Linked DNA regions of Homo sapiens. The protein of the gene in region 1 purifies or fractionates together with the protein of each later gene. This does not show direct contact. Each region holds a gene or a part of one and is shown in the gene's direction. Other genes may lie near its edges.

The links.
Region 2: the proteins of LSR (region 1) and EPS15 purify together in Homo sapiens (affinity purification with mass spectrometry; 2 studies listed by BioGRID and IntAct, with this or other methods). This does not show direct contact.
Region 3: the proteins of LSR (region 1) and ITSN1 purify together in Homo sapiens (affinity purification with mass spectrometry; 2 studies listed by BioGRID and IntAct, with this or other methods). This does not show direct contact.

Annotation. Positions count from the first base shown.
Region 1 is NC_000019.10:35,255,483-35,259,133, forward strand, and holds part of LSR (lipolysis-stimulated lipoprotein receptor isoform 2 precursor), read left to right. Parts: intron 1-3,462; coding exon 3,463-3,582; intron 3,583-3,588; exon of another isoform or gene 3,589-3,651. UniProt on the Homo sapiens protein: Probable role in the clearance of triglyceride-rich lipoprotein from blood. Binds chylomicrons, LDL and VLDL in presence of free fatty acids and allows their subsequent uptake in the cells.
Region 2 is NC_000001.11:51,404,167-51,407,817, reverse strand, and holds part of EPS15 (epidermal growth factor receptor substrate 15), read left to right. Parts: intron 1-1,709; coding exon 1,710-1,913; intron 1,914-3,651. UniProt on the Homo sapiens protein: Involved in cell growth regulation. May be involved in the regulation of mitogenic signals and control of cell proliferation. Involved in the internalization of ligand-inducible receptors of the receptor tyrosine kinase (RTK) type, in particular EGFR.
Region 3 is NC_000021.9:33,771,433-33,775,083, forward strand, and holds part of ITSN1 (intersectin-1), read left to right. Parts: intron 1-628; coding exon 629-891; intron 892-3,296; coding exon 3,297-3,446; intron 3,447-3,535; coding exon 3,536-3,651. UniProt on the Homo sapiens protein: Adapter protein that provides a link between the endocytic membrane traffic and the actin assembly machinery. Acts as a guanine nucleotide exchange factor (GEF) for CDC42, and thereby stimulates actin nucleation mediated by WASL and the ARP2/3 complex.

The DNA of each region.
Region 1 (3,651 bases):
GGCTCATGCCTGTAATCCCAGCACTTTGGGAGGCTGAGGCAGGTGGATCACTTGAGCCCTGGAGTTCAAGATCAACCTGGACAACAAAGCAAGATCCCATCTCAAAATTAAAAAACAACACCAACAACAAAAAAACAGTGGCTTAGATGCCTGATCATTAGGGTAAGTCGTGTCCTCAACCCCTTCACATCTGCTCTGAAGGTCACCATATCCGGAAGCCTTCCCTGGCCTCCTTGTTTAAAATGGCACAGCCCCCACTCCACGCCTGGCACTCTCTGCTGTCCCTGATTCGTTTTCTCCATACAGCTTATCTTTGTCTGATATGTGACATAGTTAACATTTTATATTTGTCTTTCTTTCCTAGTTAGAATCTGAACTCTAGAAGGGCAAGGGCAAGGATTTATAACTCAAAGGTTCCGGGCTTAGGCCTCTTTTATATTCTTGATTTTGAGGTTAATTAAGAGCTCAGGCCTAGCGAGGTGGCTCATGCCTGGAATCCCAGCACTTTGGGAGGCCCAGGCGGGCAGATCACTTGAGGTCAGGAGTTCCAGACCTGCCTGGCCAACACAGTGAAAAACCTGTCTCTACTAAAAATACAAAAATTAGCCAGTTATGTTGGCAGGCGCCTATAATCCCAGCTACTCAAGAGGCTGAGGCAGGAGAATCGCTTGAACCCAGGAGGCAGAGGCTGCAGTGAGCCAAGATCGTGCCACTGCACTCCAGCCTGGGCAACAGAGCGAGACTCCATCTCAAAAAAAAAAAAAAAATTAAGAGCTCAAAGAGTTTGTTTTCATAGGCAGCAGAATGAGAAAAGTTTACAAAATAGTTTAAATGACAATAAAGTCATTATAGATTAACATAAATAAAATACCTTTTATGAAAAAAATAATCATTTTCTGAAATCAGACAAAACATTGTGAATGAGAAGGTGGCATGGTTTTATTTTTTTGCAAGTCTCCGAAGCCTGGCTGGATAGAAGAGCCTGGCTTCTCAGAGCTGCTTCAGTCTGTTGTGATATCTATTGTATGTCACGTAGCCTCTGGAAAACTCCACAGTTAGTATTGTTGGGAAAATAACTTTGACCTCAGGATCTCCTGAAAACGTCTTGGGGAACCCCAGGGTCTAGAGGCTGCAGTTTGAGAACTGTTGCTGTGGTATCCCAGGTGTCTCAAATACTGCCTAGAACATAGGTGGTACTCAGTAATTATTGTTGAAGGATGAATGAATGAATGAATGAATGAATGAATGAAAGAAAGAAAGAAATGTGTCTTTGAATCCAGCCATGTGCCCAGAATGATGAGACAGATGACAAAAGCTAAGGGACTTTAGCATGAGGAGAGGGGGTTCGTTTCCTTTTTTTTCTTTTTTTTTTGAGATGGAGTCTCACTCTACTGCCCAGGCTAGAGTGCAGTGGTGCAATCTCAGCTCACTGCAATCTCTGCCTCCTGAGTTCAAGCAATTCTCCTGCCTCAGCCTCCAGGGTAGCTGGGACTACAGGTGCGTGCCACCATGCCTAGCTAATTTTTTACATTTTTGGTAGAGATGGGGTTTTACCATGTTGGCCGGGCTGGTCTGGAACTCCTGACCTCAAGTGATCCACCTGCCTCAGCCTCCCAAAGTGTTAGGATTACAGGTGTGAGCCACCATGTCCGGCCAAGAGGGTGTTCATTTCTGCTCCTTGCCAGGTATTGTGTCAGGCACTGGGGACCCAGCAGTGGCTGAGACAGACAGGGCTCTGCCTCACGGAGCCCACATTTTCACCAGGCAAAGGATGGTCGGCCCCTAAGCTGGGAGATAAGACTTCAGCAGTTGGGTGGGGGAGCCGTGGGAGAAGCCCAGCCCACAGGGGGACAGTGCAAATCTAGAACCAAGGCGATGGCAGGGGTGAGGCTGGCACGGTAGCTAGAGACCACGTCGTGCCAAGGGCCTTGGGGACCATGGGACTATGGGACCTTAGGGAAGGCGTCTGGAATGCTGTAGCCAGACACTGTTGCAAGGAGGATTTTTCTGTAGACATGAGGCCTTCCTTATGAAGAAAGCAAGGGTTCTTTCATTCCTGGGGGTGCCAGGTGCTGTGGACTGCAGCACGCGTGGTTGCTGCCGTCACAGAGCTGTCATGCAGGAGGGCAGCGCGTCCTTGGGAAGGTGGCAGGCAGGTCAGGCTAGGAGGAAAGAGGCCGGGAAGCTGAGGGCATTTCCTGCCCGAGATGCCCAATGTAGCCTACTTCTGTCCCCAGTGGCTTAAGGCAGAGTTGCCTGGTAGGTGCCCTGGTCCCACCCTGGTGAAAGGCTGAAGGTATTTAATTAGTGCCTGAGAAGCAGAGAGGAAACAGGATGTGCCAAAACACTTTGATGGATGGTAGAGTTAACAGGCTCCTTGCCTGCAGCTGCTTCAGACAAGAGCGTCCCCAAGCCCTGGGCCTGACCTGGAATGTGGGGATGGAAGGGGAGGGGGAGGAACCAAGGCACTGGGAGGGTAAGTCTCTCTCTCCCACATAGACACACCCACTCCTTATGGGTGCCTGGGCATCTCCTGGTACCTAGAATCTGGCCTGTTTATCTCCACACCCATCCCTGGGGTCTACACTAGGCCCTGTGGGTGGCAGTTCACATCAGGGGAGTTCTGACTTTGGCTCTGAGAGGTGGTTCAGAGATGGCTGTAAGTTGAGAAGCACAGACTGCTGGGTGTGGTGGTTCACGCCTGTAATCCCAGCACTTTGGGAGGCTGAGGTGGGGGTGGATCACCTGAGGTCTGGAGTTCAAAACCAACTTGGTCAACATGGCGAAACTCCATCTCTACTAAAAATGCAAAAATTAGCCAGGTGTGGTGGCAGGTGCCTATAATCCCAGCTACATGGGAGGCTGAGGCAGGAGAATTGCTTGAATCTGGGAGGCGAAGATTGTAGTGAGCCGAGATTAGTTCGCACCATTGCATGCCAGCCTGGGCAACAAGAGTGAAACTCCGATTCAAACAAAAAAAAAAAAAAGCTGGGCATGGTGGAGTGCCTGTAGTCCTAACTACTCAGGTGGGAGGATTGCTTGAGTCCAGGAGGTTGAAGTTGCAGTGGGCTATAATTACACCACTGCACTCCAGCCAGGGCCACAGAGTGAGACCCTGTCTCTAAAGAAAGAAAAAAAAAAACAACCTCAGGCTCCGAGGGCACCATTACTGCTCTATACTGAAGAGCTGTGCAGCTTTTCCAGACCCGAAATGTCATCCACAAAACAGAAGTGATAATGGTCCTGCCTCACAGACTTCTTGCAGTAGTCCAGGTGTTTAGAACGGGGTGTAAAAGGCCGTGTGCCCTTGGTAGGAATCTTTGCATATGCATTTGATCATCTGCAGCCTGCCCAGCCCACTGCTTGCCCCCTCCTGGGTGTGCTGGGAAGGGGTCTTTGGCCCTCCAGGGGTTAGGTGCCCCAGCCTCCAAGGTGCCCTCACGCCTTTTCATCCCGACTCAGATGCTGACCTGACCTTTGACCAGACGGCGTGGGGGGACAGTGGTGTGTATTACTGCTCCGTGGTCTCAGCCCAGGACCTCCAGGGGAACAATGAGGCCTACGCAGAGCTCATCGTCCTTGGTGAGTGGGCCTGGGAAGGGGGAGGCATGGCCCTTCCTTTTGTCCGCTTCTGTTCTGTCTGCCCTCCCC
Region 2 (3,651 bases), on another chromosome or scaffold:
ATTAATAAATACCCTACCCCTTAGGGCCACTGTGAGGATTAATGAGGCAAAACCTGTAAGACATTTTAGCATGGTGCTTGGTACATAAATGCTCCATAAGTGTTGCCTGTTTTATAAACAATAACCTAGTTTCTTCTGTTTTGTGATTCTAATTTTGAATTCACATTTGCTAATTTGGAAACTTTTTTCTTAAGGAAATTGTTCCTTCTGTAGATAAATTTGCAGTGTTATAGTTGGTCTTATGTATAGATCCTTTGCTTTATTTCCAGGTTTCCCTACATGAAGACTAATGTTTTAATGAATGATAAGATAGTTAGGGCTCGGCATGGTGGTGGCCCATGCCTGTAATCCCAGCACTTTGGGAGGCTGAGGCAATGGATCACTTGAGGCCGGGAGTTCGAGACCAGCCCTGCCAACATGGCCAAACTCTGTTTCTACTAAAAGGTACAAAAATTAACTGGGCATGGTGGTACCTGCCTGTAATTCCAGCTACTTGGGAGGCTGAGGCACGAGAATCACTTGAGCCTGGGAGGCAGAGGTTGCAGTGAGCTCAGATCACACCACTGCACTCCACCCTGGGCAACAGAGTGAGAATCTGTCTCAAAAAATAAAAACTAAAAAAAAAAGGATAGAAACACAGAGATCATGGAGTTGATTTCTTTCATTATGAATTTGAACAAACTAAAGCCAAGGAAGTTCAAGTAACTTTCTCAAGGTTACATATCCTTGAAAAGAGCTACATCTAAAATCCAGTTCTTCTAAAACCCAGTCCAGTGTGCTCAGTTATTACATATAATGAAGTCCTTCACTTTTGCGCTTCCTTACCCCCTGTTATCTGGCAGCTGAGTACCTACCTACTCATTCGTCATGCAAGATATACCTTAAATTCTTATTTCTTTATGGTATTTTCTGCATCCTGCTTTTGTTGGACTTTGTATTTATGTTACAGCAATAATAAGATTTTTCCCTGCATATTTGCTTATATGTCTGTCTCCCCTAGCAGAGTCATGGTTTTGGTCTGGGAACTTACACATTTTTAAAAATCCGTATCATTTAGCACAGTTCTTGTCCCAGTGTAGGTACTCAATAAACAGGTAACCTGAAAGAGTTGTTGTAGTGAGAATGCTACCAGATGAATGGGTATTCTTTAAAGTATTTTCTTTTTTTGAATCTCTTTAAAAAAAAAATCCATGTATACTAAAATTTCAAGAGAGAAATACTTATTGTCAGAAATTACTGAATCTTTTCTCTAAGTCACGTAGCATTCCCAGAGGATTCTTCTTAAAGGAAGCAAATGTATCCTAGACCAAGTCTACAGGTATAGCCATTTTTATTTTATTTATTTTTTTGAGACAGGGTCTCATTCTGTCACTCGAGTGCAGTGGTGTGATCATGGCTCACTGCAGCCTTGACCTCTGGGCTCAAGTGATCCTCCCATCTCAGCCTTCTGAGTAGCTGGGACTACAGGTGCACTCCATCATGCCCAGCTAATTTTTATATTTCTTGTAGAAATGAGGTTTCACCGTGTTGCTCAGGCTGGTCTTGAACTCCTGGGCTGAAGCAGTCCTCCTGCCTCAGTTTCCCAAAGTGTTGAGATTATAGGCATGAGCTACCACACCTAGCCCGTCAGGAAGTGGAGGAGGGCGTTTTTATGTTACATGTCTTTCTAGTAATAAATTCTGTTCTATATTTCTTCTTTGTGTTGGCAGATGCAAATGAAACTGATGGAAATGAAAGATTTGGAAAATCATAATAGTCAGTTAAATTGGTGCAGTAGCCCACACAGCATTCTTGTAAACGGAGCTACAGATTATTGCAGCCTCAGCACCAGCAGCAGTGAAACAGCCAACCTTAATGAACATGTTGAAGGCCAGAGCAACCTAGAGTCTGAGCCCATACACCAGGAATCTCCAGTGAGTCTAATACTTTCATAACCTTCATAATCAACCTCCTTGTGCAGATCCAAGTTTCACTGACATTATATCTAATATAAATACATGGCCTTGCCTCATCTGAGGACAATTGAGATTTCCTTTTTAGAAGCAGAGAGTCCTAATCCAAACAATTGTACGTTTTAACTAGTATAAAAAGATAACTTTAGCTAATTTTTTTTTTTTTGGAGATGGAGTTTTGCTCTTGTTGCCCAGGCTGGAGTGCAGTGGTGCGATCTTGGCTTACTGCAACCTCCGTCTCCTGGGTTCAAGCAATTCTCCTGCCTCAGCCTCCTGAGTAGCTGGGATTACAGTCACGTGCCACCACACTCAGCTAATTTTTTGTATTTTTAGTAGAGATGGGGTTTCATCATGTTGGCCAGGCTGGTTTCGAACTCCTGACCTCAAGTGACCCATCTGCCTCGGCCTCCCAAAGTGCAGGGATTACAGGCGTGAGCCACCACGCCCAGCCAGCTAATTTATTTTTTGTAGAGCCTGTTTTTAAAATGGTGGTTCTATAGAGTAAAACTTTTTTTTTAAGTACCCTCACCAAAAGCTAAAATTATTTTTATTACGTAGTGTTAAGGACATTCATTTACCAATTATTTGACGAGTACCAACTATGTGCAAGAGTGCTGTATTACATAATATAAGAGCTACAGAGACAAGAGACCTCAGTCTTTCCTTCAAGCAGCCTACAGTGTAGTAGTGTAACACTGTGTTAAAGGGCTGTGCTAAAGGAAGCGCAGAATTTTCAGTTAGGACAGTTTGGAGGGGGTTCATAAAGATTTTGTTGGGGAAAGCTTTGCGAGTTTAGACAAGTGAGAAGTGGTTAAGCAAAGAAGAGGAGGATACATTCCTGCCAGAGAAAACAGTATTAGTATAGGTACAAGGTGGAAGAATACATGCAGCACAGAATCTTGAGAAGTTCTGAAGGATATCTTGTGATGGTGGAGAGGGTATTGGTAAGAGATGAGGCGCTTCTAGTAGGCATCTGCATTACCTCTGGTGATTGTCAAAGTATAAATGTGTATCCCTTTCCCCAAACTTGCTGAACTAGTTTCTGGGATAGAGCCAGATATGTATATTTTAAAAACACACTCTATGGGTGATTGTCATGTGCACCTGGATAAAAATGACCAATTTTAGGTCAGAAAGTGCCAGAAGATGAGAAATTTAGATTCATCTTAAAGCATTGGGGGATTTATCCTACTGCAATGAACAGCCATTGAAGAATTTTAAGCAAGAAGTGACGTGATTAACTTTTAGAAATGTGGAAAACGGATTAGAGAGTGAGACTGTACCCGTAGAAGGGATAATGAGAAGAATAGAAGTTTGAGAGGTATTAAAAGTGAAAAGTTAACAGACTCGATTTTATTTACACAGTGCAGTCATGTATGCATTATAAAATATTCTTTCAAGCGCAAAAGGCAGATTACTAGGTTATCCTGCAAATAGATAAGGGTGGTATAAAGTAGCTATTGCCCTGCTACTTTTTTTTTTTTTTTTGAGACGGAGTCTCGCTCTGTTGCCCAGGCTGGAGTGCAGTGGCGCAATCTCAGCTCACTGCAACCTCTGCCTCCTGGGTTCAAGCTATTCTCCTGCCTCAGCCTCCCGGGTTTAAGCTATTCTCCTGCCTCAGCCTCCCGAGTAGCTGGGACTACAGGCGTGTGCCACCACACCTGGCTAATTTTTTGCATTTTTAGTAGAGACGGGGTTT
Region 3 (3,651 bases), on another chromosome or scaffold:
TGATGGGATTGTAGAAAATGAAGAAATAAAATGGACATAAAGTATTAGAAAAAAAAGGATAGAACTGAGTAATCATTCTAAATTTATAATTGATGTGTTAAAGAAGGAAACTGAATAATGGGTTAGAAAAAATTGTTGACTGACTGTGATCTCCATAGGGATCAGGGCACAGCTTGTTCTTCAGTGTGAAAAGCCGAATGCTCACCTTTCACTCTGCTTTGAGAAATCTTGTTAGAATAGAGGACTCATCAGCACGGTTACAAGGCAAAGGGAAGGAGGGAGAGAGACAGAGACTCATGGTCCAGAAGAGAGGGGGTTAATTCCTAGGGCAAGCTCATGGGAAGAAGGGAAAGGATGGAGTAACAGGGAAGGAAAGGAGTCTGGATGGTGATGTAGAACTGCTAGATAAGGATCTTTTAGAAACAGTGTTTGGCGTGGAGGAGAAGATATAAACAGAGAGGTTAGGCAAAGGGGGTTTTCGTTGTGCTCATTAACAAGGACACAGAAGCTTAGGGAGTTCTGGGTTTGGGTTTGTACTACAAATTTCAAATACATTGGTGAGTTTTCCTTTGAAAAGAGTCCGTTGAAAATCTTGAGTTTTCATAGTTGCTGTGTTCCTTGTCTGAAGTAACGTTTGAAGATAAGAAGCGGGAGAACTTTGAACGTGGCAACCTGGAACTGGAGAAACGAAGGCAAGCTCTCCTGGAACAGCAGCGCAAGGAGCAGGAGCGCCTGGCCCAGCTGGAGCGGGCGGAGCAGGAGAGGAAGGAGCGTGAGCGCCAGGAGCAAGAGCGCAAAAGACAACTGGAACTGGAGAAGCAACTGGAAAAGCAGCGGGAGCTAGAACGGCAGAGAGAGGAGGAGAGGAGGAAAGAAATTGAGAGGCGAGAGGTAAGCAGGCGAGAGTGGAGCCACCCGGAGTTAGTGTGCGATCACCCCTTTTCAGAATTATCCAAGTGATCTATTCACGCCATCTTTGTCTTTTTACAATTCAGTAGTTTTAGTATATTCCCAAAGTTGTGCAACCATCGTCCCTAATTCCAGAACATTTTCATCACTCCAGCTCTTTACCCATTAAGCAGCTACTCCCCATTTCTTTCTCCCTCCAGCTCCTATCATTAATTTTACTTTCTATCTTTCTAGATTTACTTATTCAGGACATTTTTTATAAATGGAATCATCAATATATGGACTTTTGTTTCTGGCTTTCATTTAGCATAATGTTTTCAAGGTTCATCCACATTGTAAAATGAATCAGTCCTTTATTCCTGTTTATGGCTGAGTAATATTTCGTTATATGGGTATACCACATTTTTTAATTCATTCAGCAGTTGATGGTCATTGTGGCTATTATAAACAATGATGTTATGAACATTAATGTACAAGTTTTTGATGATACAATTTTGTAACAAACCACTGATACCAGTAAAGTGTTTTTCCAGACTGTTTTCTCTGTATACACCTATATAAAAATATAAAGGTTTATATGGCGGAGAGTGTAAGGGCTGTATAATTTTTTAAAAACCACTGTAATAGTATCATACCAATTACATTGTTCTGCAATCTTCTTTTTTTTTTTTTTTTTTGTTTGAGACAGAGTCTCGCTCTGTCACTTCCAGGCTGGAATGCAGTGGCATGATCTCAGCTCACTGCAACCTCTGCCTCCTGGGTTCAAGCGATTCTCCTGCCTCAGTCTCCTGAGTAGCTGGGATTACAGGTGCCCGCCACCACGCCCAGCTAATATTTTGTATTTTTAGTAGAGATGAGGTTTCACCATGTTGGTCAGGCTGATCTCGAGCTCCTGACCTCGGGTGATCCACCCGCCTCAGCCTCCCAAAGTGCTGGGATTACAGGCATGAGCCACCGCGCCTGGCCCATGCAACCTTCTTTTTAAACTCTTTTAAAAATATGTCTGGGACATCCTCCCTATATTCTATGGAAGGCTTCGTAAATTTAGCGCCATACCTGGAAAGGGGCTAAGCAAATCTTGTCTCTCTTTCCAATTTTAGTACATTACTGCAGAAGCAACACATGGTTCTTTCATGTGAATGAAAGATAAAAATGAGGAATTTTTCGATGTAAAAAAATAGCCTGAGTGCTGTGCCTCAAGCCTGTAATCCCAGCACTTTGGGAGGCTAAGGAGGGATGATCACTTGAGGCCAGTAGTTGGAGGCCACTGCATTCCAGCCTAGGTGACAGAGCAAGAACCTGTCTCAAAAAAAGAAAGAAACAAAACTTATAGCCATAACTCCTTTTTTTTTTTTTGAGACAGACTCTCGCTCTGTTGCCCAGGCTGGAGTGCAGTGGCACGATCTCAGTTCACTGCAGCCTTCACCTCCTGGGTTCAAGTGATTCACCTGCCTCAGCCTCCGGAGTAGCTGGGATTACAGGCGTGAGCCACCATGCCTGGCTGATTTTTGTATTTTTAGTAGAGACAGGGTTTCGCCATGTTGCCCAGGCTGGTCTCGAACTCCTGACCTCAGGTGATCCGCCTGCCTCGGCCTACCAAAGTGCTAGGATTACAAGCGTGAGCCACTGCGCCCGGCCCCGTAACTCCTTTTTGTTCAGACAGACACTAACAAAATTTTAATTTTCAGAATGAACAAAGATAGGCAAACTTTTCTTCAACGTACCAAAAAAATGATATTCTAGAGTATTTATTCAGAATTATTTAATAGACATTTACCATGTATCAGGTGTAGTTGGATGACCCATGAGTCAGAGGCAATTCCCATAGACTGTCAGATGCTCTGATATGTACTCTATCTAGCAGTCGTCAGAGCCAGTCGTTGGAGGGAGCAAAAGCTTTTGTGGTAAAAAGGAAATGAATGATTAGGAAGTGGGGAGTCGCAGACTTTTAAAACGAGTTAAGTAATAATTTCTCTTTTGGTGGAGTAAAATCAACTCTTGTTTGTTTTTGTTCAGGGGTGTTTTAGTTTGATTTTACTACATAAATTTTCCTTCTTGGCGTGTCAGTAAATAAGAAGGAGCATTTTTAGTTAGCACATCAAGCATTCTTGAAGGCATAAAGAATGGAATTCTAATGGGGAAATAATCCTGTCATCTTACGTAAATATAGTATTATGTAAATATAATACCCAGTTCTGTGTATTCCCTTTATTCCCATAGAAGGAATACTGTATTTTTATGTAATTTTTTGTTTTCTAATGTGATTTCTTGTAATGTTTAATATTTCATCCCTAAAAGGAAAGACTTCCTAGATGCCATTTTTGTGAAAAGACATTGTGTAGTGTAAGAACTGAAAAATTAGTAATTTGTCTCTGTAAATGTCACAGGCTGCAAAACGGGAACTTGAAAGGCAACGACAACTTGAGTGGGAACGGAATCGAAGGCAAGAACTACTAAATCAAAGAAACAAAGAACAAGAGGACATAGTTGTACTGAAAGCAAAGAAAAAGACTTTGGAATTTGAATTAGAAGCTCTAGTGAGTGAAGTTTGGTTATACTTTGAAAATATACTAAGATGGAACCATTAAAAACAGTAATAATTTTTATTATCTTTCATTTGTTCAAGAATGATAAAAAGCATCAACTAGAAGGGAAACTTCAAGATATCAGATGTCGATTGACCACCCAAAGGCAAGAAATTGAGAGCACAAACAAATCTAGAGAGTTGAGAATTGCCGAAAT